7 linked regions of the Homo sapiens genome follow. The protein of the gene in region 7 purifies or fractionates together with the protein of the main gene of each other region. This does not show direct contact. Each region holds a gene or a part of one and is shown on either strand. Other genes may lie near its edges.

What was found.
Region 1: the proteins of CAMSAP2 (region 7) and ZNF638 purify together in Homo sapiens (affinity purification with mass spectrometry, with the first as the bait; one large-scale study listed by BioGRID). This does not show direct contact.
Region 2: the proteins of CAMSAP2 (region 7) and MAST3 purify together in Homo sapiens (affinity purification with mass spectrometry, with the first as the bait; one large-scale study listed by BioGRID). This does not show direct contact.
Region 3: the proteins of CAMSAP2 (region 7) and ZBTB21 purify together in Homo sapiens (affinity purification with mass spectrometry, with the first as the bait; one large-scale study listed by BioGRID). This does not show direct contact.
Region 4: the proteins of CAMSAP2 (region 7) and RASAL2 purify together in Homo sapiens (affinity purification with mass spectrometry, with the first as the bait; one large-scale study listed by BioGRID). This does not show direct contact.
Region 5: the proteins of CAMSAP2 (region 7) and SRSF12 purify together in Homo sapiens (affinity purification with mass spectrometry, with the first as the bait; one large-scale study listed by BioGRID). This does not show direct contact.
Region 6: the proteins of CAMSAP2 (region 7) and NADK purify together in Homo sapiens (affinity purification with mass spectrometry, with the first as the bait; one large-scale study listed by BioGRID). This does not show direct contact.

Annotation. Positions count from the first base shown.
Region 1 is NC_000002.12:71,348,782-71,352,281, reverse strand, and holds part of ZNF638 (zinc finger protein 638), read right to left. Parts: 5' UTR 3,328-3,500; coding exon 2,011-3,327; intron 1-2,010.
Region 2 is NC_000019.10:18,125,278-18,128,777, reverse strand, and holds part of MAST3 (microtubule-associated serine/threonine-protein kinase 3), read right to left. Parts: intron 379-3,500; coding exon 320-378; intron 1-319.
Region 3 is NC_000021.9:41,993,361-41,996,860, forward strand, and holds part of ZBTB21 (zinc finger and BTB domain-containing protein 21), read right to left. Parts: intron 749-3,500; 5' UTR 736-748; coding exon 1-735. UniProt on the Homo sapiens protein: Acts as a transcription repressor.
Region 4 is NC_000001.11:178,475,104-178,479,350, reverse strand, and holds the end of RASAL2 (ras GTPase-activating protein nGAP), read right to left. Parts: 3' UTR 501-4,247; downstream 1-500. UniProt on the Homo sapiens protein: Inhibitory regulator of the Ras-cyclic AMP pathway.
Region 5 is NC_000006.12:89,098,266-89,101,071, forward strand, and holds part of SRSF12 (serine/arginine-rich splicing factor 12), read right to left. Parts: intron 683-2,806; coding exon 313-682; 3' UTR 1-312. UniProt on the Homo sapiens protein: Splicing factor that seems to antagonize SR proteins in pre-mRNA splicing regulation.
Region 6 is NC_000001.11:1,775,671-1,779,908, reverse strand, and holds the start of NADK (NAD kinase), read left to right. Parts: upstream 1-1,438; 5' UTR 1,439-1,620; intron 1,621-4,238.
Region 7 is NC_000001.11:200,829,393-200,832,892, reverse strand, and holds part of CAMSAP2 (calmodulin-regulated spectrin-associated protein 2), read right to left. Parts: intron 694-3,500; coding exon 552-693; intron 188-551; coding exon 48-187; intron 1-47. UniProt on the Homo sapiens protein: Key microtubule-organizing protein that specifically binds the minus-end of non-centrosomal microtubules and regulates their dynamics and organization.

The sequences.
Region 1 (3,500 bases), on a different chromosome or scaffold from region 7:
GGTCTTGAACTCCTGACCTCAGGTGATCCACCTGTCTCGGCCTCCCAAAGTGCTGGGATTACAGGCAGTGAGCCACTGTGCCCGGCCCCCTCCTCCTCTTTATACAGGCATATCTAAAGCCTCAATTCAAGACCCATCTTCAACCTACTCCATGAAGTCTTCTCTCCCACATCATTCTAGTCAAGACAGACTTAGTGCATTTAGTAACTGACATTCCATTAGTCTAACTAGGCTATAAAAGTCTTTTGATGTCAGGATGCATATTTATACTTATTTTTAAACACATACTGTTACAAATACAATAGTTAAAATAATTAAATTGGCAAATTGGTAATGATTAAATTGGTAAATTGATGATGCTGGCCTGAGTGATACATGCCTGAAATCAAGACAGAAATCTCTGTCCCCTACAGCATATCCAAACAAGTTAAATCAATCACAAAACCACTTGTTGTCTTCTAATTGTTTTAAATGTCTTGGGAGCATAATTTTTCTCCCCAATAAGACTGAATAAACTGCTTAATAACATCTAAAATTTTACACAGTTCCTCATTTCTGCCCCAGTACCTAATTGGAGTCAAGTACAAAACTGGTATCCATAAGTACATACTAAATTAAATGTACACCTTTTCTACTCTACAGAATACAAAACTTCAAGTTCTTTATTTAAAGATGTATTTTCTTGGATTCATTATGATTAATTAAAAGTTCAAAATCAATTAAAAAAAATTATGTGGTATGCCCAGTCACAAGAATACAGACAAACACTCAATTCACTACTTAGGCCAGGGCTACTTACAGATTACAATTAGGTGATATGAATTATTCTAAGACTTTCCCTTGTAAGGACTTTGCTATCCCTTCTGATGGAATAAGGCAACTATTATTTTAATAGAATTTGGCACATCTGGCTAAAATGGGGTAGAATGCTGCTTTCTTTTGCTGGAGTTAACCTTAAGAAAATACCAACAGATCTAATTATCAGATTCATGTTGACGAAAACCTAGTGAGTAAATAATGAAAAGAAAATCGAAAGGCAGCACTGGAAGAAAAGAACAAGAGCGTTAACACACAGATTTTTAAGCCTAAGTATACAACCAATTCCAGGCCATGGCCTTGAATCAAAGCTTTTTCCCATGTTAGTATATTCTCTTCTGACCCTTTACAATCTAAATCTATAAATCACATTAGTAAATAGAAGAAACAGTGATTGCCAACCATACGTAAGTAAATAAAATTTACTTGGAAATTCCTGCTCAAATCTACCAATGATTACGACTGAACAGTATGTTCTACATTATAGTACACTTCACTGCCTCTGCAAAATACTTCCTTCTAACTATACTATCAAACTACCTAAATCATCTTTATTTTTTAAAGATTTTTCTCTACAAATTTCTATCATTTTACACTATTTTCTGAGTCCACAGCTGGTCCCAGAATAATTACTGCACCTTGACTTATTTTTGCTATGAAGTTATTTTAGAAAGCTTCTTCTCAAAAAATACTAAAAATCACTAGTCTACATAAAGTCAGGAAATATTTAAATCAACATTAATTGTCTTTATCCCAAGACAGGTGTATATGTGCAAGGCTATAATATACTGTCTCTTAAATGTGTGCATTACAAATGGGTTATACCATCTCTTTGTATTTTTATACTAACAGATCCTTTTAGAGAAAGGTGATTCCATGTGACATTGTCTTGTAAGTACGCAGCTTATGTTACATAAATTTTATGTTGCGTAAGTGGGATAACTAAAAGTTCAAAATAAATGGACACACTACTAAAATATGGTGTGCCCGGTCATAGGAATACAGTAAGCCTAAAATTCAATTCAGTACTAAGGCCAGGGCTACTTAAGATTACAACTATGTATTGAGGTTGCAATTAAAATTACCTTCTGCCATTTCCTTAACGCCTAGTTAACAAGCAGCATACATATCAGAATTTAGAGAAAACTGGCGCTGAGCATCATTATACAGTGATCTTTTTTTAAAAACACTCACCTTCAAATGACTACATTCTACGTTACACAGAGAACACAAATGTGGAAATATTCTTGGAGATGCTGCATAATAATCATTCATCATAGAAGGAGTTGGAAGTCTCTTCATCTTCTGGGCATCAGCATGTGAAAACTTTGGTAGCCAGGATGCTTTCACAATACCAAAGGGAGACCGAATGGGAATGTCAGCCTGTGACTGGTAATTCTTTTTACTTCCTCTTGATCCAACATGTACGTTAGATGAATTAATCACAGGTTCATGTGGGATCCGCTCTTGCTGGCTTACAGATGAAATTAATTCCGACGAAAAAGGTTGCTGGTTCATAGATGGAGGAATCAGAGATTGACTCATTGTCTGGCTAACTGTTTGGTTAATGGATTGGTTGACGGATTTTATGGGTTCAAGGACTGACTGTCCTCCTGAAATGTGTAAGCCTGACATCTTGGTTCCACTCTCAACTGAGAAAAAGGACCGATTATTGGAGGACTCACCGGGGAAGTCCATTTGGCGAAATACGTCTTCAACAGGAAACATAGAATTACATATCACATTTGGATTGGGAACAGATGCAGAAATGTTCTGCTGTGACTGAAATTCATTCTCGACCTCATCAGTTGGAATTTCAGGATCATAAATACGTACTTCAAGTGGATCTTCTGTGTAGCCATATTTGCTTGCATGCCCATAATCGATCACATTACTTGAAACTGCTTCACTACCAAGTGTTTCTTTATTTCTGCTCTGAGAAGGTAAATTAGGTAATCGGCGCCCCATTTTTCGCATTCTTATATCCCTCAAAATTAATGGCATATTTTCAGGAGTTAGTTGTTCATCAGGATAGCGACTAAGTTCTTCTAGGTCTTCATTAGATAATCCAAAACTTGCTAAGATACTTGAGGCACTCTCTTTTGTATAGCGGCTCTGTACTTTGGGACTCTGCTCTGTAACCTGTGTTACAGAACTCTGTTTCACTGCCACTGATGCAGATATATGAGGCTCATCATCCCACCGGCTACCATGAGGCTTCCCCTTCTTCTGTTGTGCTTCATGAAAATCCAGTTTTTCTTTGGTCAATCTTGGATCAGTTCTGTGTTGAGTTACCTGAACATTCATTCTCTGTGGCCCCATGTTCTGATAAGATTCATGGCCAGCAAATCTGTGTGGAATTCCACGTGCTCTCCCTGCTGGGTAAAATCTTGGGAGACCCATAGATCCAGGCCTCATAAATGGTCCTGGAGGCCTCATCCCAGAAGGGTTAGGTGCTCGTGGCCTTTGAAGTGGAAAGTCTCCTCGAGGATTAAACCTGGGTCTCGACATGGCTATTTTCAAGAAAGCCTGATTTAATAAAGTATAAGGTGGTGTTGAACCATGTGAGGCAACGGCATTCAGCTGCTGAAGCGCCAACTGAGTCTTAATCTGAGCAAAGTGCAAAGGAGATGGGCCCAACAGAAGTGGGTTTGCAATGCCCAGGTTCAAGGAATTCACAAGTG
Region 2 (3,500 bases), on a different chromosome or scaffold from region 7:
GCCCGATGCTACCTCCTCCCCTGTCCAAACTTCTCCAACTCAGCTTCTGACTTTCTGTACTTTTTTGCTCACAGCTGTGCCCTCCTCCTGGGAAATTCTTACACGTCCTGCAAAACTCACCTGTCCAGTGCCCCTCCAGCACTGCCCCCACCCGACTTCCAAGGCAGGGCAGTCCCACGTGCCGTCACCTTGCCTCCAAAGTCACCGATGCTAATTAAGCTACATGCAAGACCTCGGCAAACCCAGCCCTTTCTGCGGGTGCCTGGTCCACTCTGGAAAGAACAAGATGAGCGGGGGTCCCCCAGCCTCTGCTACTCACCTCTGGGGACTCAGGTGCTGGGGGCTGTTCTTCTTCGAGGTGACTCAGTGGCACCATCTCTGCAAGATGAGGGAGGAGGCTCAGCTGGAGCCTCCCTGCCTCACCCTGCATCACCCAGCAATTTCCTGAGGCCTCTAGAGTTCTCACCCCAGGCTGGGGATGCAGTGCCTCCCCTGACCAGCTCTCATGACACTGTCATGAAGCCACATCCGGGAGGCTGGATGAAGCAATGACTTAGGAACCTTCTAGAAGGGCCAGTGGGCTGCCCTGGCTCTGAAGTGCTCAGTCATGATCAAACTTAGGCTCTGAGCCTTGAGCCTGTGAAGACGGGATGAGACACAGGCCCCCTGGGTGTCAGCTCCTAACATCTTCCTCAGCTCAGGGTGCAGCCCAGGTGGAGGGTCCAATATGTTCTTGCCCCAGGCCTTGGCAGAGGGGCAGCCCCTAGCGAATGCCTGGCAAACATGGTCCAGCCACAGACCACATGTGATCTGGCCTTAGGTACACCTGGGTTTGATTCCCTGCTCAGCCTTATCTGCCTGGAGCCTCAGTTTCCTCAGCTTTATTTTTTATTAGTATGATTATTTAATTTATTTATTTGACATGGAGTCTCGCTCTGTCACCCAGGCTGGAGTGCAGTGGTGTGATCTCAGCTCACTGCAACCTCCACCTCTTGGGTTCAAGTGCTTCTCCTGTCTCAGCCTCCCAAGTAGACGGGATTACAGGCGTGTGCCACCATGCCCAGCTAATTTTTGTATTTGTATTTTTATTTTTTGAGACGCAGTCTCACTCTGTCGCCCAGGCTGGAGTGCAGTGGCGAGATCTTGGCTCACTGCAACCTCCACCACCTGAGTTGAAGAGATTCTCCTGCCTCAGCCTCCCGAGTGGCTGGGATTACAGGCGCCTGCCACCACACCTGGCTAACTTTTGTATTTTTAGTAGAGATGGGGTTTCACCACATTGGCCAGGCTGGTCTTGAACTCCTGACCTCAGGTAATCCGCCTGCCTCGGCCTCCCAAAGTGCTGGGATTACAGGTATAAGCCACTACGCCCAGCCTAATTTTTGTATTTTTAGTAGAGACAGGGTTTCACCATGTTGGCCAGGCTCGTCTCAAACTCCTGACCTCAGGTGATCTGCCCGCCTTGGCCTCCCAAAGTGCTGGGATTACAGGCGTGAGCCACCGCACCCGGCCAAGTATGATTATTTCAGAGACAGGCTCTTGCTCTGTCACCCAGGCTGGAGTGCAGTGGTGCCATCATGGCTCACTGCAGCTTCAGTCTCCTAAACTCAAGCAATCCTCCCACCTCAGCCTCTCAAGTAGGTGGGACTACAGGCATTCACCGCCACGCCTGGCTAATTTTTAAAAATACTTTTTGTAGGCCAGGCGCGGTGGCTCACGCCTGTAATCCCAGCACTTTGGGAGGCAGAGGCGGGCGGATCATGAGGTCAGGAGATCGAGACCATCCTGGCTAACACAGTGAAACCCCGCCTCTACTAAAAATACAAAAAATTAGCCGGGCGTGGTGGCGGGCGCCTGTAGTCCCAGCTACTCGGGAGGCTGAGGCAGGAGAATGGCGTGAACCCAGGAGGCGGAGCTTGCAGTGAGCCAAGATCGTGCCACTGCACTCCAGCCTGGGCGAGAGAGCGAGACTCTGTCTCAAAAAAGAAAAAAAAAAATTACTTTTTGTAGAGATGGGGTCTTGCTATGTCACCCAGGCTGGAGTGCAGTTGTGCGACCATAGCTCACTGCAGCCTCAAACCCCTGGGCTCAAGCAGTCTTCCCACTTCAGCCCCGCAAGTAGCTAGGACTATAGGCATGTGCGATCATGCCTGGCTAATTGTTTTTTTAATAGAGACGAGATCTCAGTATGTTGCCCAAGCTGGTCTCAAACTCCTGGCTTCAAGTGATCCTCCTGCCTTGGCCTCCCACAGTGCTGGGATTACAAGTGTGAGCTACCATGCCGGGCCTCCCCAGCTTTCAATGGGGACAGTGGCAGGTCAGTCCCACTCCAGGTATGGTCCAACCTTAGGGTCTATGCCTATGCTGCCTGTTTCACTCTTTCCTTTGGATCTGCAACCTGGTCACCTCCTGCCCTCCAGGCCTCAGTTTGAACACTGCCTCCTCCCAGAGCCTCCCCCTGGCTACTGCTGGACCAGGCTAGGTCCAAGTTCAATGCTCCAGCTTTCAGTTCCTCTTATCCTGGCTATTTGTGGAAATTTTTTTTTTTCTCTTTTTGAGACAGGGTCTGGCTTTGTCACCCAGGCTGGAGGACAGTGGTGTGATCATAGCTCACTGCAGTCTCAACCTGCCAAGCTCAAGCGATCTTCCCACCTTAGCCTCCTGAGTAGCTGGGACTACAGGCGCGCACTACTACACCCAGCTACATCTTTTTTTTTTTGAAATGTAGGCTCACTCTTTCACCCAGGCTAGAGCACAGTGGCGTGATCTCGGCTCACTGCAACCTCTGCCTCCTGAGTTCAAGCGATTCTCCTGCCTCAGCCTCCCAAGTAGCTGGGATCTACAGGCACATGCCACCACACCCGGCTAATATTTGTTTTTAGTAGAGATGGAGTTTCTGCATATTGGCCAGGCTAGTCTTGAATTCCTGACCTCAAGTGATCCACCCGCCTCAGTCTCACAAAGTGCTGGGATTATGGGATTACAGGCGTGAGCCACTGCACCTGGCTGGCTGTGGGAGTTGTTTGTTTTTTTTTTTGAGACAGAGTCTTGCCCTGTTGCCCAGGCTGGAATGAAGTGGTGTGATCTCGGCTCACTGCAACCTCCGCCTCCAGGGTTCAAATGATTCTCCTGCCTCAGCCTCCCGAGTAGCTGGGATTACAGGCACACGCCACCACACCCGGCTAATTTTTGTATCTTTAGTAGAGATGGGGTTTCACCATGTTGTCCTGGCTGGTCTTGAACTCCTGACCTTGTGATCCACCCACCTCGGCCTCCCAAAAGTGCTGGGATTACAGGCGTGAGCCACCGCACCCGGCCGGCTGTGGGAGTTTTTGACCGTCTTCTTACCTACGGGTTGTCCTGTTTGACTCCAAGTTCACTTTCTGGGCCACAGTAAAGGCCACAGAAATTGGTAAAGTCATTTGTGAATTTGCAGGACAAAGGGAAGGCCACTGCTAACACTGGTCCCCAGGCTTCCTGACCATCTTAACGTGGCATTT
Region 3 (3,500 bases), on a different chromosome or scaffold from region 7:
AGGCTTTGAAGGCAACACTGCATTTCTTTTCACCAAACTGATTCTATTAGGATCATCCAAAGATCCAGAATGCTCAAGAGACTTTGCATATACCACAGAACTATCTTTCGGCCAACTCTTTTCAGTTAATGACAAATTATGAAGTGGTTCTATTGGTTTTGGGACATGTGGCTTATTGGTATTGGCCTTGACTGCAATGCTAGGAGAGGGCCGGGAAGTATGGCTTACATCGGGTTGATTTTGACTAACAGTTTTTCCTTGCGCTTCGTTTCTACTTTGACAAACAATGACACTTCTCTTTTGAGAACTGTTTTCATCATCTTCTACAAACACTTTTTTTCTATTAGGACACGTTGGAAAGGGGGCTTGAGGTGTTTTAGAAACGATGTTAGTCAGAAAGGAAATCCCAAGACTATAGCCAAGTTCTTGCACAGCAGCAAGGCTGCTCTTCTCAACAAATAGAGAGGAAGAATAAATGTAGTTTAAAACATTATCAAAAGCATCTGGCTCACAGAAGTCAAGCTGAAATACAGTTTGTGACTCATTTTCCTTATTTGTGAATAAACTCTGAAAGTATTCGCTGCTGGCAGCCAAGACGTTTTTATGAGCTCGGAACTTTTGGTCTCCAACAATCAGCAGCACATCACACAGCTGTCCTTTGAGACGCTCCTCATTCAGGGCACTTAGGAGAGAAATGGCGTGTGCAGGGTTGATGTAATGCAGTAATCCCTCCATGGCTTGAGTTTATCTAAAAGACAAAATGTAAAATTACTACAGATATTGCAGTGAAAAGTTCCCCTGGCTCCTCAAGAGCAGGGAACATCAGCTGTCTTTGCATAGGTACCAATATTTAGCAGACCGTAGGCTAACAGAAGCTCTATGAATGAACAATCTTATTTAAATAATGGTGAAAATGTAAAATAAGTCTCGTGGTTTAAGTAGGTCCTCATTAAAATAGAAGAATTGCAGGAACTATAATATAGGCATTTGTATATCATCAAAAAGGCTGCCAGAACTTGGCAGGTAGATATGGAAGCAATATTTGAAAATAAAGGTTTATTATTTAGGGTCCTTATCCATTTGATGCTTGGCACTATTCCTTACCAATTCAGAAAACAAGTACGAATTATCAAACCCCTGAAGTCTATAATTCTGAAAGAAAATCAGCTTTATTACTACATATACTTAAACATAATGTGAACTGTTAACAATTGGTTGCAAAGCAGGTCTTGTGAGACCCTTGTTTTTATTTTGAGACAGGGTATCTCTCTGTCACCCAGGCTGGAGTGCAGTGGCACCATGATGGCTCACTGCAGCCTCAATCTCCTGGGCTCAAGCAATCCTCCCACTCAGCCTCCTGAGTAGCTGGGACCACAAGCACATGCCACCTTGCCAGGTGATGCGGTTTGGTGGTGTCCCCACCCAAATCTCCTCTTGAATTGTAACTCCCACAATTCCCACGTCGTGGGAGGGACCCAGTGGGAGGTAACTGAATCATGGGGGTGGGTCTTTCTCGTTCTCTTCTCATGATAGTAAGCCTCATGAGATCTGATGATTTTATAAAGAGGAGTTCCCCTACACAAGTTCTCTCTTCCCTGCTGCCATGTGAGATGTGACTTGCTCCTCCTTGCCTTCCACCACGATTAAAAGGCCTCCCCAACCACGTGGAACTGTGAGTCCACTGAACCGCTTTTTCTTGTAAGTTACCCAGTCTTGGGTATGTCTTTATTAGAAGTGTGAAAATGGACTAATACAGTAAATTGATACCAGTAGAGTGGGGCACTGCTGAAAAGATACCCGAAAATGTGGAAGCGACTTTGGAACTGGGTAACAGGCAGAGGCTGGAACAGTTTAGAGGACTCAGAAGAAGACAGGAAAATGTGGGAAACTTTGGAACTCCCTAGAGACTTGCTGAATGGCTTTGACCATAATGCCAATAATGATACAGACAATGAAATCCAGGCTGAGGTAGTCTCAGATGGAGATGAGGAACTTGTTGGGAACTGAAGCAAAGGTGACTCGTTATGTTTTAGCAAAGAGACTGGTGGCATGTTGCCCCTGCCCTAGAGATCTATGGAACTTTCAACTTGAGAGAGATGATTTAGGGTATCTGGCAGAAGGAATTTCTAGGCAGCAAAGCATTCAAGAGGTTCTCAGGTGCTGTTAGAGGCATTAAGTTTTATAAGGGAAGTAGAGAATAAAAGCTTGGAGAAGTTGCTGCCTGACAGTGCGATAGAAAAGAAAATCCCATTTTCTGAGAAGAAATTCAAACTGGCTGCAGGAATTTGCCTAAGTAAGGAGGAGCCGAATGTTAGTCACCCAGACAATGGGGAAAATGTCTCCAGGACATGTCAGACCTTTGCAGCAGCCCCTTCCATCACAGGCCCAGAGGTCTAGGAGGAAAAAATGGTTTTGTGGGCCAGGCCCAGGGCCCCCTTTCTGTGTGCAGCCTAGGAACTTGGTGCCCTGTGTCCCAGGTGCTCTAGCCATGGCTGAAAGGGGCCAAGGTACAGCTTGGGCCATGGCTTCAGATGGTGCAAGCTCCAAGCCTTGGCGGCTTCCATGTGGTGTTAAGCCTGCAGGTGTGCAGAAGTAAAGAACTGAGGTTTGGGAACCTCCGCCTAGATTTCAGAGGATGTATGAGAACACCTGTATATCCAGGAAGAAGTCTGCTGCAGGGCTGTGTCCCCTCCATGAGGGGCAGGGCCCCATGGAGAAACTTCTGCTAGGGCAATGCAGAAGGGAAATGTGGGGTTGAAGCCCCCACATAGAGTCCCCACTGGGGCACTGCCTAGTGGAGATGTGAGAAGAGGGCTACCATCTTCCAGACTCCAGAATGGTAGATACGTCGACAGCTGGCACTGCGTGCCTGCAAAACTCACAGACACTCAATGCCAGCCCATAAAAGCAGCCAGGAGTGGGGGCTATACCCTGCAAAGCCACAGGGGCAGAGCTGCCTAAGACCATGGGAGCCCACCTCTTATATCAGCTTGACCTGGATGTGAGACATGGAGTCAAGGGAGATCATTTTGGAGCTTTGAGATTTGACTGTCCTGCTGAATTCTGGACTTGCACCGGGGCCTGTAAGCCTCTGTTTTGGCCAATTTCTCCCATTTGGAACGGCTGTAGTTACCCAATGCCTGTACCCCCACTGTATCTGGGAAGTAACTAACTTGTTTTTGACTTTGCAGGCTCATAGGCGGAAGGGATTTGCTTTGTCTCAGAAGAGACTTTGGTCTGTGGACTTTTGAGTTAATGCTGAAATTAGTTAAGACTTTGGGGGACTGTTGGGAACGCATGATTGGTTTTGAAATGTGAAGACATGAGATTTGGGAGGGGCCCAGGGTGGAATGATACAGTTTGGCTGTGTCCCCAGCAAAATCTCATTTTGAATTGTAGCTCTCACAATTCCCCACATCTGGGAGGCACCCAGTGGGAAGTAACTGGATCATGGGGGCAGGTCTTTCTTATGCTCTTCTTGTGATAGTGAATAAATCTCA
Region 4 (4,247 bases), about 22 Mb from region 7:
GAAACAGGGATGCAGGAGAAGATGGGTGTATTTGGGAACAATCATGTTGGGAATGACAAATGAACTTCTATTAAGAAATTAAAATAAAAAACCTGAACCAAACATCAAAAATCCTGAAAACAAACCCCATTAATCTAACTGGAAAATTACAAGAGGATGGTAGTGGTCTAGGAAGCTAAGTGGGGCTACATTTCCTAATAAACCAGATGAAACTTTCTTTACCTGTCACAAGTTATTAAAGAGATTTCAAATTCTGCAGAATTCGAAAGTAACAGTTTTATCACAATACATGCTAATGCTAGTTATTTTTCCTAAATTGAAATCTTATTACATGGAAGTTGGGAAATTCTAGGACAGACTGTTCTTAATGTTAAAATATATTTTTAGAAGAATATTCCGGCATACATTTCCTTTCTTGTTTCTCTTCAAGTGTCCTAGTCACCCAGGTGCATGCTAGAAGACAGCAATATGTCAAATATAGTAGCAACTTTAGTCTGAAATGTTTAAAGTTAAAGTTTATTTGTATTCTTTGTAGGAATATCAATAAAAGACCTCAAACGTATCTATATCTGTACATGTACAAGAACTGTCAAAAATTATTCACAGAACAAAAATAAATCTTCTTTAGAACAAACCCAGGTAATGAAATGCTGATACGGATCTCACATACGGAATAATCTAAATGCTACTAGCACAAAAATATGGCTTTAAAAATAAAATAAAATCTTGGGTTTTGTTTTTCTAAGGTGTATTTCTCTTTCTTGAAATAAAAAATAAATTATTTAGAGCTATCATTGTAAAATAGTCGTGTGTTAACACACTCTTATTAAGGCCCTGGAGATGAAAAACAAAATCAAATTTAGAAGGTCATTTCCTCACAGGTGTAACTCAGGTTAATGTGCTGCTGTCTGCTTAAGTTAATATAACTAGGAAATGTCTAAGCACCAGTCAAAATTTAACCTAATTTACTATTTAACTTTCCTGAAGGTGGTCATTGAGTCAATTAGTATTTAACCTTTTGTTGAACTGGGAATTGAAATGTTTCCCTCGAAAATTTGGAAATCACATAAAATGATATTTACACATAAATATCTGTACCCCCACAAAGATGATGGAGGTCCCTAAAACACAACTTCTGTGGAAATCTCTCTACAACAACAAATAAATCTGGTTTTAAGTCTCAAACTAAAAAAAAAAACAAAAAACTTCCTAGGGTCAAATGAGGGTATTTAAGTGGAAGATAGCAACTGAGTAGGAAAGGAAAATGCATGCTGAAATGCAGGCAAAGACTACCACTTTCCTTTCCTCGGGTGCTCACTGCATTTCCCAAGTCTTGCTGTGTTGGTTACTCAAACACTTGAGGCTTAACTGATCAGGAACTGAAACTACTTATTTCTGGATCCTACTCTCAGATCAATGATATTCAACTTTATTTCTATGATTCCCCATGGTATCAATAATGATATCTAGGGTTCTTGAGACAATGCCAAACCAAGTCAATTTCAAGTTGCTTTAACTTATATATACATATAACACATATAGTACATTTTTTAGGATGATAGAATGTCATAAAATCTAACAGACGAGAGCATAAAATCTGAAAATCTCAAAGTTTGGGAATCACTGCTCGATAAAATGGATTAACATTCAGAAAAAGGAAGCCCCAGGAATTATGTTTTGTGTGGGTGTGTGCATGTGTTGTCTACAGAGACTGCCTTTTTATGTATCTATGTATTTTAAGAGTGGGCAAGGGATATAAATATTCCTGTTTCCTGGAAACTCTGGGCTACTGAGAAGACTGCTTATGCATTCATTCCCTTAGGGTCGTGTCTCTTCCTCAGGTTCTTTCACTCCTCCTAAGATATTTATTCTATCTCATGCAAATTTCATCACTTTTGTCCTTCCTAAACCCAAGAGTATACATAATCGGGTCATGACAAAGAGAATGCTTCTAGAACTAATAACAATCATTCAAACATGAAAAGAGATTCTATTTAAAAATTCAACACTCCAACATTTCTTGCTTTTAAGAAACTAAATCCTTCAACTGACGCATTGAAAAAACAAAGTATCTCAAATTATCGGCCCCCAGGTAAGGGGTAGGAAGGCAACTATTTACTGCTGGGGTAAGCAGGAGATTTCACTATTAGACTTGAAAAAGGGAAGGAGAATGGAGAAGGGAGCCCTTCTGGCTTTCCACAGTTGATAGGAGAAGGTGGCCTCCAAAGGTGTAGCTGAAAATGCAGTGAAGCTATGGCATGTGGCTGTTGGGTTTGGCCCTGTGACAAGTCTAGTCTGGTGTCAAGCGTGTGTGTTGGGCTCAATGTCACAATGGGGTAGACTGATGGGACTGAGGTAATCCTGAAGAGGGTTCCTTTCCCACGCTCAGTCCTATAACCAGCCTTCTCAGGAACTCCAAGCTAGAGGTAACTAAAACTAACCCTCTATGGAAGGGGAAACAAATACGAATGCAAACTCACTTGATGGCAGTTATTTTGCTCTGGGACTTCCAAAGAAGAACTCTGCTCTCAATCTGGTGTACCTCTGAGAACACAGTGAAAGCCAGGGGTCTACAGAACCACAGACCCATCAACAAAGGCCCCGGGTAGACTAAGATCTGAAAAGCTTTACTTCCAAAGTCAAGCTCATTCTTAAGGGCATATAGTTAACACTTGTAGCAGTCTTAGGTAATCTTCTTTTTCTTTCATAATCTTAACACCATCACAGAGAAACACGGAAGCAGACCAGTCAGAGAAAGCTAATTCTGACCAACTTGATACTATATGAAAAAAAGCAAAAAGCTATAGCAGCATGATTACCTCATTTTACCACATTTTTCTTACCGTTAGACTGCCATAAACCCCAACAGTACCTTGGTGATAGTGCTTGGAACATGGTAAGTGCTCAAGTGCTTGTTATAGTTACCTAGTTATAATCTCCCCTCTGACATGGCTTTTGCTGCAGAGACTCAGGGAATATGATGACCTGATGGAAATGTGACTCTTTTTGCTGCTTCAGCTCAGATTGCTTATTGCTTCAGTAATATAAAAGGGGAATATGAAGCTCTTTTCTGACTCCTACCAACACTGTCCTCATTAATGGTCAAGTCTGTTGTCAGCTAGACATGCACTTTACAAGCACTTCACCTGAATTCCAAATTCCACTCAACCCTGATCTATCCTGCGCCCCACAATGTGGTGTTGTTTTGAGGGAAACAGGAAGTGCAAGACATTGCTATCTTAATCTATTTGCCTCTCTTCAGCCATGTACCTCCTCCCAGCAAACAAAGTTATTTACCTACTTGAACTGAGGGAAAGCCAATTAAGAAACATCTCCATAAAAATTATCACCTGTTGGTGGCTTCTCTTCTTAAAAAATCCTTCAGAGTAACTTATACAGATTGCAGCATTCTCTAAAGAAATACTGAGAAAAAAGGTTGGACAGGAGTAGGCTCACAGGATAACTTAACATTTAACATCTATCAGCAACTCTGAACTTTTAGCTTATTGGTAATGCTCTATTATTATTATTTTTTACTATTTCTTCTTCATTCAAGATAACCTGGTAGTAGAAGGCTGCATAATCTGTCCAAATGTTTTGGGCATTAAATCTTTCAGTGAAGACAGCCCTCTAAGGAGCTCCCATAATGCTAATAAGATACACTCTATCCATCAAAAGCACATTTGATTTTTTGGGGCTTCTCTCAATTCCCAATATAAGTAATTTTATCAGCCCTCTGTAATCCATAATCGGCACTTAAGAGCTTCCAAACCTCAATGGCAAGACATCACCCACATTACATACTTATGGCCAATGAAACTGACAATTCTCTTACCAGGTTTTCTGTGGCACAATTGAAGGCTTTTACAAAGAATGAATTAAACATGGCTTGAGCTGAGAATAGCCAGAAACAAGAACAAATCTATGCTTACATCCCTCCTCCTTCAACAAAGGACACTACACTTTGGAACAGTTACCTCTTTTTCCTAATAAAATAAGTGATTTTGACCACAGTGTGCCCTCCGCTTGGAGAGAAGGTGTAAGAATTTGCAAACCAAAACCAAAGGTGAAGAAAACGTAAAAGTGCCAAAACAGCTGGATATAAAGTGTGCAGATCAGATAAACACAGTGAGAAACTCCCATTTTAGATCTGTCTGGCAGAAACAGGGATTGCTATGAAAGAAACTGTTTTAAAAGGTTGTGGGTTATGTGGCCATGGTGAGGTTGCTGAAACGTAAGGTCCAACA
Region 5 (2,806 bases), on a different chromosome or scaffold from region 7:
TACTATGCAAGTAGAATTTTAAAAATTAGTTCCAGTTTACTCATTTCCCTTGAAAAGTACCCTTCTGCCACAATGTAAATAAAAAATGGTCCATAAAATGGTGACATTAGACAAATCATAATTTGTAGTGTGGGCCCTTTAAATGGAGACCAAATTTTTATTAATCCAAAGCTAGAGATTTTATTTCTTCCATATGCCCAAAGTAACTAATATCAACTCGCATTTTCTGTATGCCTTAAAGAATTTTTATTTAACATAATGAGAGTTTAATAACTTATATTAAAGACGGCGTGGTGCTCTTTCTGTTGCTGTTCACCAACTGTTTTTATGACGATAACTTCGAGATCTGGAATGTGACCGAAAATGAGAATGCTTTGCTGTTTGTACTTTAGTTTCAGAATTGGTATACCCTTTGGGAGATTTACACGGGGATCTTGCTATTGAGTCAGAATGTCTTCCATGTGATCTTGATTTTGTTCCTGAGCTAGTCTGCTTTTGAGGTGAACTTGACTGTGATTTTCCTATTGACTTGGACCTCTTTTGTAAGGACTTGGACCTTGACCGTCCTCTAGAGCCAAAATTCCTTCTTGGAGTTCTTGACTGCCTTGCTGAGGTAGACCGCCTTGGTAATGATTTGGAACGAGATTTAGACTGGCTATAAGAAAATCGCCTGTGTCGAGACCTGCAAACATCCATAATGTTAGAGCATATATTTCACACAAAATAAGAGATCAGGAAATAACACTTTCAGGAACTTACATACTTTACATAACATTAGTTATATTTTTACTAGATAAGCTAAAAAAATTTCTCATTTTATTATGCATGCTTTTGGTTCAAACATAAGTAACAAGTTTGTAATATTTGTTATACTAGAATATATGGCCAAAAATTTTTACTTTGCTAGACATATAGGGATCAGTTCTGAAAAATACACTGCATATTTGGTCTGAGTTATACAGCTCTTAAGAGGTACAAAAATCTGAAGAAAAAAAGATTAAAAAAATCAATTATTTACAGTTCAAATAATGCTTATAAAAATAAAAATCTAGATGTAGGACTTTTGGGTCCTGCCATGACAGAACAGCTTGTATTAGACTAATCTTCCCATAGAAAACAGCTCTCTCTCTCTCTCTCCATATATATATACATATATATATGTGTGTATATATATACACATATATATGTGTGTATATATGTGTGTGTATATATATATGTGTGTGTATATATATATGTGTGTATATATATATACACACACACACACACATACATGTTTTTTTTTTTTTTGAGACGGAGTTTCGCTCTTGTTGCCCAGGCTAGAGTGCAATGGCACGATCTCAGCTCACCGCAACCTCCGCCTCCCAGGTTTGAGCAATTCTTCTCTCTCAGCCTCCAGAGTAGCTGGGATTACAGGCATGCGCCACCACGCCCAGCTAACTTTGTATTTTCAGTAGAGATGGGATTTCTCCATGTTGGTCAGGCTGGTCTCAATCTCCCGACCTCAGGTTATCCCCCTGCCTCGGCCTCCTAAAGTGCTGGGATTACAGGCGTGAGCTACCACACCCAGCCGAAAACAACTATATTGAAAAGCTACACAACATTTATAAAACAACTGTTCGAAGGCACTGGAGGATAATCAACACAAGCAGGAAGAACCTGAGGGATTACAAGCCTTGGCTCTTTTACTAAGACCATTTTTCAAATGACAGCATGGAGGAGTTGAGCCCAACCAGAAAATGGCTATTTGACTAAGCTGAAGAGAGAAAAGTTAATTCAGGGCTACCAAAATGGGTGGGACACGAGAGGCAAAAACTCTAGAGAAGAGTGAATTAGAGACCAAAAAGTACCTCTAAAATTTGCCTACAAATTATCCTTAAATCACTGGCCATCTTCTAAGTTGTGTGTGTATGGAAGAGATTCCAAGGGACCAGCAAAAAACCGGAATTCAGAAATTCAAGAACTGCGCTGAAATTTTTATCAGACACACAGTGCTGAGAGAGAGATTAGAGTTCAAACTCCCAAAAGGTCAATGAGGAACATTAGGTAACAACCCAGAAGGGCTACAATCTAGAGGTAAGGGCCATGCCCTAGGAATAAATTCAAAGCCAAAACAAGCAGCTTTAACAACACCCAAAACCAAGCCTTAAGATCAAAGTGATCTGCCAGTACTCTGTCTACCAGAAGAAAACTGTCTTTGGAGAATGATAATGTCATGCAGAGCCTCTATAATTTTTTGTCCATGTCCACATGTTATGTTAAAAAAAAAAAAAACAGGCAAGAATAACTAAAAACTAAGGAAAATAAAAGGCAAAGAATCATTCCCAAAGTGATTTGGATATTGGCATCATCAAACAGGAATTTAAAAAATTACTATGAGTAATATATTTAAGAAAATAAGAGGAAAAGACAAAACAGATAAAAAGATCGTTCAGTGGAAAACTACAATCTATAAAAAGAAACAAATAGACATTTAAAACTAAAAATATATGATATCTGAAATTAAAAAGTCATTAGATGGTCTTAACAGCAATCTAGATATAGCAGAAGAAATAATGAACTAGACTGGGTGCAGTGGCTCATGCCTGTAATCCCACTTTGGGAGGCCAAGGCGAGTGGATCACCTGAGGTCAGGAGTTCAAGACCAGCCTGACTAACATGGTGAAACCCCATCTCTACTAAAAATACAAAAATTAGCCTGGCATGGTGGTGCATGCCTATAATCCCAGCTACTTAGGAGGCTGAGGCAAGAGAATCAATCACTTGAACCTGGGAGGCAGAGGTTGCAGTGAGCCAAGATCGTGCCATT
Region 6 (4,238 bases), about 200 Mb from region 7:
GCAGGTATGCGGGTGTGGGGAAGGGCTGCAGAGGACTCAGGTCCACACCGACCCTGGGCCAGGTGATCACACAGAAAGTATAGACAGGGACTGAACCTCAGAAAACAATGGCTGGGCCAGGTGCAGTGGCTTACGCCTATAATCCTAGTACTTTGGGAGGCCGAGGCGGGTGAAGTTTGAGACCCAGCCTGGGCAAAATGGTAAAACCTCATCTCTACACACACACACACACACACACACAAATATATATATATATGAATGAAGTAGTCGAGTGTGGCGGGACCTACTTGTAGTCCCAACTACTAGGGAAGCTGAAGTGGAAGGATCGCTTGCACCTGAGAGGTCAAGGCTGCAGTGAGCCGTGAGCCCGCCACTGGACTCCGGCCTGGGGGACGAATGAGACACTATCTCAGAAAAACAAAACAATGTCTGGCACCTGGGGGACCAGCAGGTTAGAGCAGCTGGTCGTGCATTGCCAGTTTACCTGACAGTGACTCGAGAGCTGAGAACTGGGTATAGGGCACATTATTGGGATATTTGAGGCCTGAAGGCGCTGATGAGCAGCCACCAGTTCAGCAAGTGCGGGCTGGGTGGGACCCGCAGTTCCAACAAACACTACAAAGTCCGCTCCTGTGGCTTTGGCCTCCTCCCCCAACTCCCCGAGTCCTCCAGCCTGTGGGGTGCGCAAAACACGGCTCCCTGGTCCCCCTAGAGGTGCCCCAGGCCACCGGGTCCTCCCTCCACTGCCAGCCTTGGGATCCCAAGCGTAGACCTCTGAGGACGTTCGTGGGCGTGCAAGGCGCACCTGGCCGCTAGAGGTGGGCGTGAGGCCGATCGCGGTTCCCCCAGGCGCAGGGCCGCCCTCCCAGCCCCGACGGACAGCCCCGAGGGAGCGCAGCGCTGCCGCAGCTGCTCTAAGTTTCGGTTCCCAAATCCGGCTCGGCCCACACCGTGTCACAGCCCGGTAATTAGGGAAGCGGCGGCGGGCGGGGCCAGCTCTCGCGGGGCACCTGCACTCCCCTGAGCCGGCCCACGTGGTCCGGGAGGTCCCGCCCGCGGTGGCGGTGAGTTGGGGGCGGGACGCCGGGCTGGGATCACAATGTCGGGGGCGCCTAGGCGTAGACGTGGCGGGCGGACCCGGGGGCGCCCTCCGGACGCGGCAGGTGAGTGGGGACGGGAGCCGGGGGCCGCCCTCCTCGGGGCGCCGACCCCCGCCTACCCGAGTCGCGGACGCCCGCCCCTGTCCCCGCTGCCCGCCTCCACTCCCTGGTCACTGCTCTCCACCGCGATTCGCCCCTCTTCCCCACCGCCCGCCTCTTTCCCGCCACGCCCGCCGCCTCCCGCCCGCGCGGGGTGTCCCGGCGCCGGTGGGACCCGGCAGACGCGCGGGACGCCCCACGTGCGCGGCAGCGCGCATGCGTGGCGGGTGCGCCTGCGCAGTGGGCGGGCGCGGCGCATTGCTGCTCGGCGGCGCCGGCGCCGGGGTCCGGGCGGCCATGGGGCAACAGGCGGCCAGGGCGCCAAGGGCCAGGTAGCGACGGCTGGCGGCGGCGCGGCGGCGGGGCCTGCGGGCTCGGTCCGGCATGTAGACGCCCCCGCAGGCGCCCGCGGCAGCGAACGGTGAGTGAGCAGACCCGGCCTGCCGTCCGCCTGGGGTCGCCCGCTGCCTGGGGTCATCGCTGCCCGCGAGCGCGCGGCCAGGCGGGGAGACACCAGGCCGGCCCTGCCCATCTGGCCTGCTGAGGAGGCCGTGGAAGTGCTGACGGGCCACCGCTCCGTCCCGAATGGGGCACCAGCACGGCCCAGGGCGAGGCTCGGCCTTGGGGACGGGTCTGAGGGAGGCCGCTGTCCGGCCTGGCTCTCCCGGGCGGGGAAGGTGGGGCCGTCCAGCCCGGACCGCGCTTGTCAGTCGCCTCTGCTTGGGCGGCCAGGTCCTCGGTGTCCGGCCTTCCGTGGGTGGTTTCAGCAAGCAGGAGGGGTCTTTGACTCGTGAAAGCTTAGAGGGGCCCAAACCTAGTGGGAAAGTATGAATAAAAGATTCTATACAGCAGTATTGGCATGGAATTCTCTAAAAACACATCTCTGATTTAGTGCCCAGTACTTGCCAGAAAATTCCAATAGTCTATGGTGATGTTCCTACAGGCGGCTGCCATCCAGTAGGTCAGATGTCAGCACCGGCCTTGAGCTCTAGGTCGTCGTTTTTTTTCTTAATTGTGGGAACAGGGCGTGCCCAGCTCCGAAGGCCTGGTGGAGTTTTCCTTCCCAGGCCAAGGACCACCCCCACCCTCCCATCCCTCCTCCCCAAGCAATGAGATTCCTTTTGGCTTCGATTCCGAGTAACAAGTTATTTTTCCTTTCTTGTTTTGGAACACACTAAGTTTTACATTCAAAAGTTCATTATTCTTGGCTCTTGATGGGAATACATTTCAAAACTCTTCTCTTCTTGTGTTCCATGTCTCTCTGACAGCCTTAGTTGGCCTGAAACTGACATGTTTGCCTTAATAAGTTTTTTTTTCCTCCTGATGTCATCTTGTCTAAGAAGCTAGTTACTTTAACACCTTGTTAGATAATTCCCTTCAAGTACTTATTCCCCTGAACATTGTCCTCTCAAGCCTCTGGAAATTTCCTGTCCCCTTGGAACTTCTCTGTAAGGCCTGTTTGCTCTCAGCAGTGACTTCACTGGGACTTTTGCAGCCACTTTATGGTGTTAGCACGCTGATTCCAAGCTACTTGAGGAATCACAGGTGCCACCGCAGTACCCAACAAAATAGCTTCATCATTTGGAGGTGTCCTCTCGAGATGTTTCTGTGTGTATATGTGTGTGTATGTTAGAAACAGGGCCTCACTCTGTCCTCCAGGCGTGTTTATGGTGGCATGATTATAGCTCACTGTAACCTCAAATTCCTGGGCTCAATTGATCCTCCCACCTCAGCCTCCTGAGTAGCTGGGATTACAGGCCTGCACCACCACACCTAGCTGATTTATAAAATTTTTTGTAGAGATAGAGTCTCACTGTGTTGTCCAGGCTAGTCTCAACCTCCTGGCCTCAAGAGATCCTCCTGCCTCCACTTCCCAAAGTGCTGATCTTACAGACGTAAGCCACTTTGACCAGTCTTTTTTTTTTTTTTTTTTTTTTAAGACAGAGTCTAGCTCTGTTGCCCAGGCTGGAGTGCAGTGGCACAATCTCGGCTCACTGCAACCTCCACCTCCCGGGTTCAAGTGATTTTCCTGCCTCAGCCTCCTGAGTAGCTGGGATTACAGGCGCCCACCACCACGCTCAGCTAATTTTTGTATTTTTAGTAGAGACGGGTTTCACTGTGTTGGCCAGGCTTGTCTCGAACTCCTGACCTCGTGATCAGCCCACCTTGGCCTCCCAAAGTGCTGGGATTACAGGTGTGAGCCACCACAGCTTGCCTCACTTGGACCAGTCTTTTTGTTTGTTTGTTTCATTTGAACTTGGAGGTGGGTTTATGTTGTTTCAGTTGGCAGCCTGCTGTTTGGTTCCAAAACAGCATTTTCTTCTTGAAACAACTGCTGTCAGCAGTTAGATTTCCAGGCTAGCACAAAAACCTGTTTGACTCATAAATCCTTGTAGTGAGGGTGTCCCAGAAAGTTGGCCAAGTCAAGAGCAGTTCTTGTGGAGTGGAGGCGGTGAACAAATAGGGGGAAAGTGGCGCTCGTGATGAAAACGGAAAACAATAGTTGATTTTATTGAGCTTCACGCTTGAGGAAATGTAGGTCTCACTTGGAAAATTAAGAGGCAGGTGGGTGTTTGCGGGACTCGACGGCCTTGCATCTGGATTACCTCCAGTCTGCAGGTGTGGTAGGATGACAGCAAGAGGGAGTGTTGAGCACACAAGCCCAGCACTTGGGGGGAGGCTGTGTCATGGCAGGAAGGTACAGGGCCTCCTCCAGCAGCTCCACTTTCTAGTCCGTATATACCTGTTGACAGTCACCGCCCAGCTTCAGCCGTTCTGGACAAGTGGGTGTCAGTAATGCTTTAGCTTGTAACCCCAGGATTTCATTTCTACTCTCTGTGCTGGTGGCTTATCATTTGCAATCTTTCCTGGCCCACAATTGCAAAGGTCCTAGCATTCATGCATGGGAATGGGGAAGTGAATAAAATGTGTGTGTGTGCTTCAGACAGATGGTGAAAAGTGTTCAGAGAAAAAGCGAAATTGAGGCAGATGGGATGTGAGGATGCCACGCACACTTTGTGCAACTGAAGAGGGAGGTGA
Region 7 (3,500 bases):
AACATATTTTAACAAAGCAAAGGGAAAAAAAGAATAATTTAATTTACCTTTATGGATGAAGCAGCATAGAGCATATCTTCCAGAGTGAAATGGCAACACTGGTTCAAGTATTCTTGGCAAAATTCTTGAATCAGCTGCAGATTATACAGGCTATCAGCCAAAGACATAGTTTCTTTCAAACAAATATCTTCAAATAAGAAAAGAGCAAGGTGGTGACTTTGGATTAATTTGATAATAAATATTTCATATCCATCTTGTAATTAGTACAAATACACAATTCTGGTTAACAAACATACATTTATAAATATAGTAGTCATTATACATTAAGACTTAGAAACCGAGCACTATTTTTTTTTGAACTACCTCCCTCAGAATTATATATAAATGTTCTTTATTTTTAAAAAAAAGTCTTCAGTACTTATTAAATAATATTGTCTTTTTTTTGAGACAGGGTCCCACTCAGTCACCTAGGCTGGAGTGCAAAATAATACTGTCTTAAATATTGGTTACTATCTGTCTACAGTTCAGAAGTATTACAATGGAACACTTACCCTCTAATCTGACAACATCAGGACAGTAAAAATGAATAAGGGCAGCTAATGCACAGCCATCTGTCCCATCCTTCAACAAATTTTCTACCAATGGAATGCAAGGCAGTTGCTTAAGCAATGTTTGCTCTTTCCGATAACGAGCCTACGATATAAAAAAAATACATGAAAATAAATAAGTACCAAATAACGCATAGGAAAAAAATCAGTACTGTAAATTCTAATGTACCAGTAATAAAATAAATCATGAGAAATGAGACCACTCACCAATATTTCTTTTTTTCTAAATAACGCTAGGTATTACCAAAGTTAAATACACGGCAACAATAGCTATAGTTTTGAAGCTCAATACTTAATATAACATACTGCTAATTTACACTAACTGACATTTGGCTTAAATATTTAAGTATAAAAGCATCACAAAACAGATTTTGAACACTTTGTATCCAAATAATCAGTTCTGCTCTTTTGAAGATAATAAAATTCATCTACTTTAATTCAGACTTAATTTAAACTGAAAATTCTTATACGGGAAGAGCAAGAATACTATTCAAGCAGAAAGAGTTATCAAAATGAGGGGGAAGGTAAAAGAATATACTATTCTTAAAAGAAATTTGAGGAACTGGAATAGTATCACCAAGACATTCTGGGTTATTATCTGAATGTTGAGGAAACACAAATAGTTAACAACTTTGAAAGTGAAAAAAAAAAAAACCCTTCCAACTTAGATTTCATTAATAATTGAGCAAGTATACGGGTTCTTGCTCCCCCTCAGAAAAAGAGAAGAAACCTTTGTTTCCTAAAGATTGTTTGGTGTGGCTAGATAGAATTTTTAAAAATAGATCTCTAAAAAATGAGACATGCTGTAATAGTTAAGAGAACAAATTCAGATCCTGGTTCAGATCCTGGTTCTGCCACTTACTAGTTTTGTGATCTTGGACAAGTTACTTAAACTCTCATTTCTCATTTTCCCATCTGTAAACTGGCGTAATAATAGTACCCACTTCATAGAACCACTGGAAGATTAAGTAAGATGATGGACACAAAGTGCTATGCATCCTGCTGGGCACACAGCAAGCAATCAATAAAGGTTAGCTATTATTAGCTGTTAACTCTTCTAAAGCCAAGTAAAATAATGCTGAAGATTTAGTGAATGTACACACGAAAGTATTTTGCTAGCAAAATATATAACATAAATTACTGGTAGTTTTTTTAAGGTTATCAAACTATTTTTTCTTCTAATTCCATCTAAATTGGTCATCTCTATAGTTTAGAATTAAAATATAATTATAAGATAAAACACTTTTGTGAGAATAAAAATAGAAAAATAAAAATTTACTGAAAGAGAACACAACATTTGGTAGTGAAGTTAGATTTCTTTTCAATGCTATCTCTCAGAAAAGCATCAGCATTAATGAAGAAGGAGATACTTATTCCTGGATTTCTCTCACTGGCTACCCAAGGACAAAATTCATGGAACATGTTTTCCTCTTAAAGATTTCTGAAGGTTCTTGTTAATTAGTGCATAATAGACTCCGTATTTAAGAGTACATCCCTAATTCAGGGGGTAACTATATTCAGAAAAAAATTACTTGCAGGTACTATATGGATTCTTTAATTGATTCTGATTTTAACATAATTCTTAGAAAATTCCTCACTTTGCAGCTAAGAAACAGCTTAAAATCAACCATGGGGAGGGAAGAGGAAGGAAGAAAGAAAAAAGAAATCAACCAGTACAGCGGTATCTTCTAGGCTTAAGCTACCGTTCTCACAATTAGTATCTGTTCCAGATCCTTACATGCTTTTCTTTGGTTATCTGGGATAAAAACAGTCTGCCTCTTGGACATCCTCAAAATTGGGCTGGGACTAGTAGTTTGTTTTCAGCCTATGACCTGAATTGGACTAAGCCAAGCACCCAGGGTCATGCAACAAAGAATTGAATTATGTGATTTGTTCTACTCCCTCCTGCAAAGTAGCACTTTTGTACAAGGTATGTGCAAACAGGCACATGTATGTGCACGTGCACACACACACACACACACACAGCTTTATATGACATTAGCAATAAGTATCTATGGTTTAGACTAGACAGAGAATTATGAATGGGATGCCAAAACATTTTCCTAAAGATTGTATTCTAGAAGATATATTAAGTAAACCAACTTTAAATCTTGAGATTATGTCCAGCACTCAGAAGGTTCATCCGCAGTTCATGAAAGAGTCTTTTGTACTTGAACATGCTATTTGCTTTATAAACTTATTGCATGGAAACATGCCCTTTCTTTCTGCAAACTAAGAAGTTTGGCATTTAGAAAGAACCCCCTATATTTTTATATTTCAACATTATGGTATATTTATTTTCTTCTCCTTTTTTTTGTTGTTTGTTTTATTTTTATTTTATTATTATTATTTTTTTTGGAGATAGCGTCTCACTCTGTTACCCAGGCTGGAGTGCAGTGGCACAATCATGGCTCACTGCAGCCTCGACCTCCTGGTCTCAGGTGATTCTCCCACCTCAGCCTTTTGAGTAGGTGAAACCACAAATGTGTACCATTATGCCTGCCTCATTTTTCTATTTTTTGTAGAGATGAGGTTTTGCCAAGTTGCCCAGGCTGGTCTCAAACTCCTGGGATCAAAGGATCCACCTGCCTTGGCCTCTCAAAGTGTGGGATTATGCGCGTGAGCCACCGCACCCGGCCATTATGGTATATTTCTAAATTAGAGTTTTATTATCGAGGATGTAAAATAGTTCTTAAGTGGTTTAACACACCCATCCCCATATTTAAATCTGAAAGATCAATCTTTAAGTCAAATCAGAATTTAATATGGTTTTGGTCCGCTACTGGTGAGGTCACAGAAAACCTTCTGCTTTCTTAATCACACAAAAAGTGAAGTGTCATCTATAATTCAAGCTGAAAAGGAACTAGGTCTGTCAAAAAGATAATTTTTTAA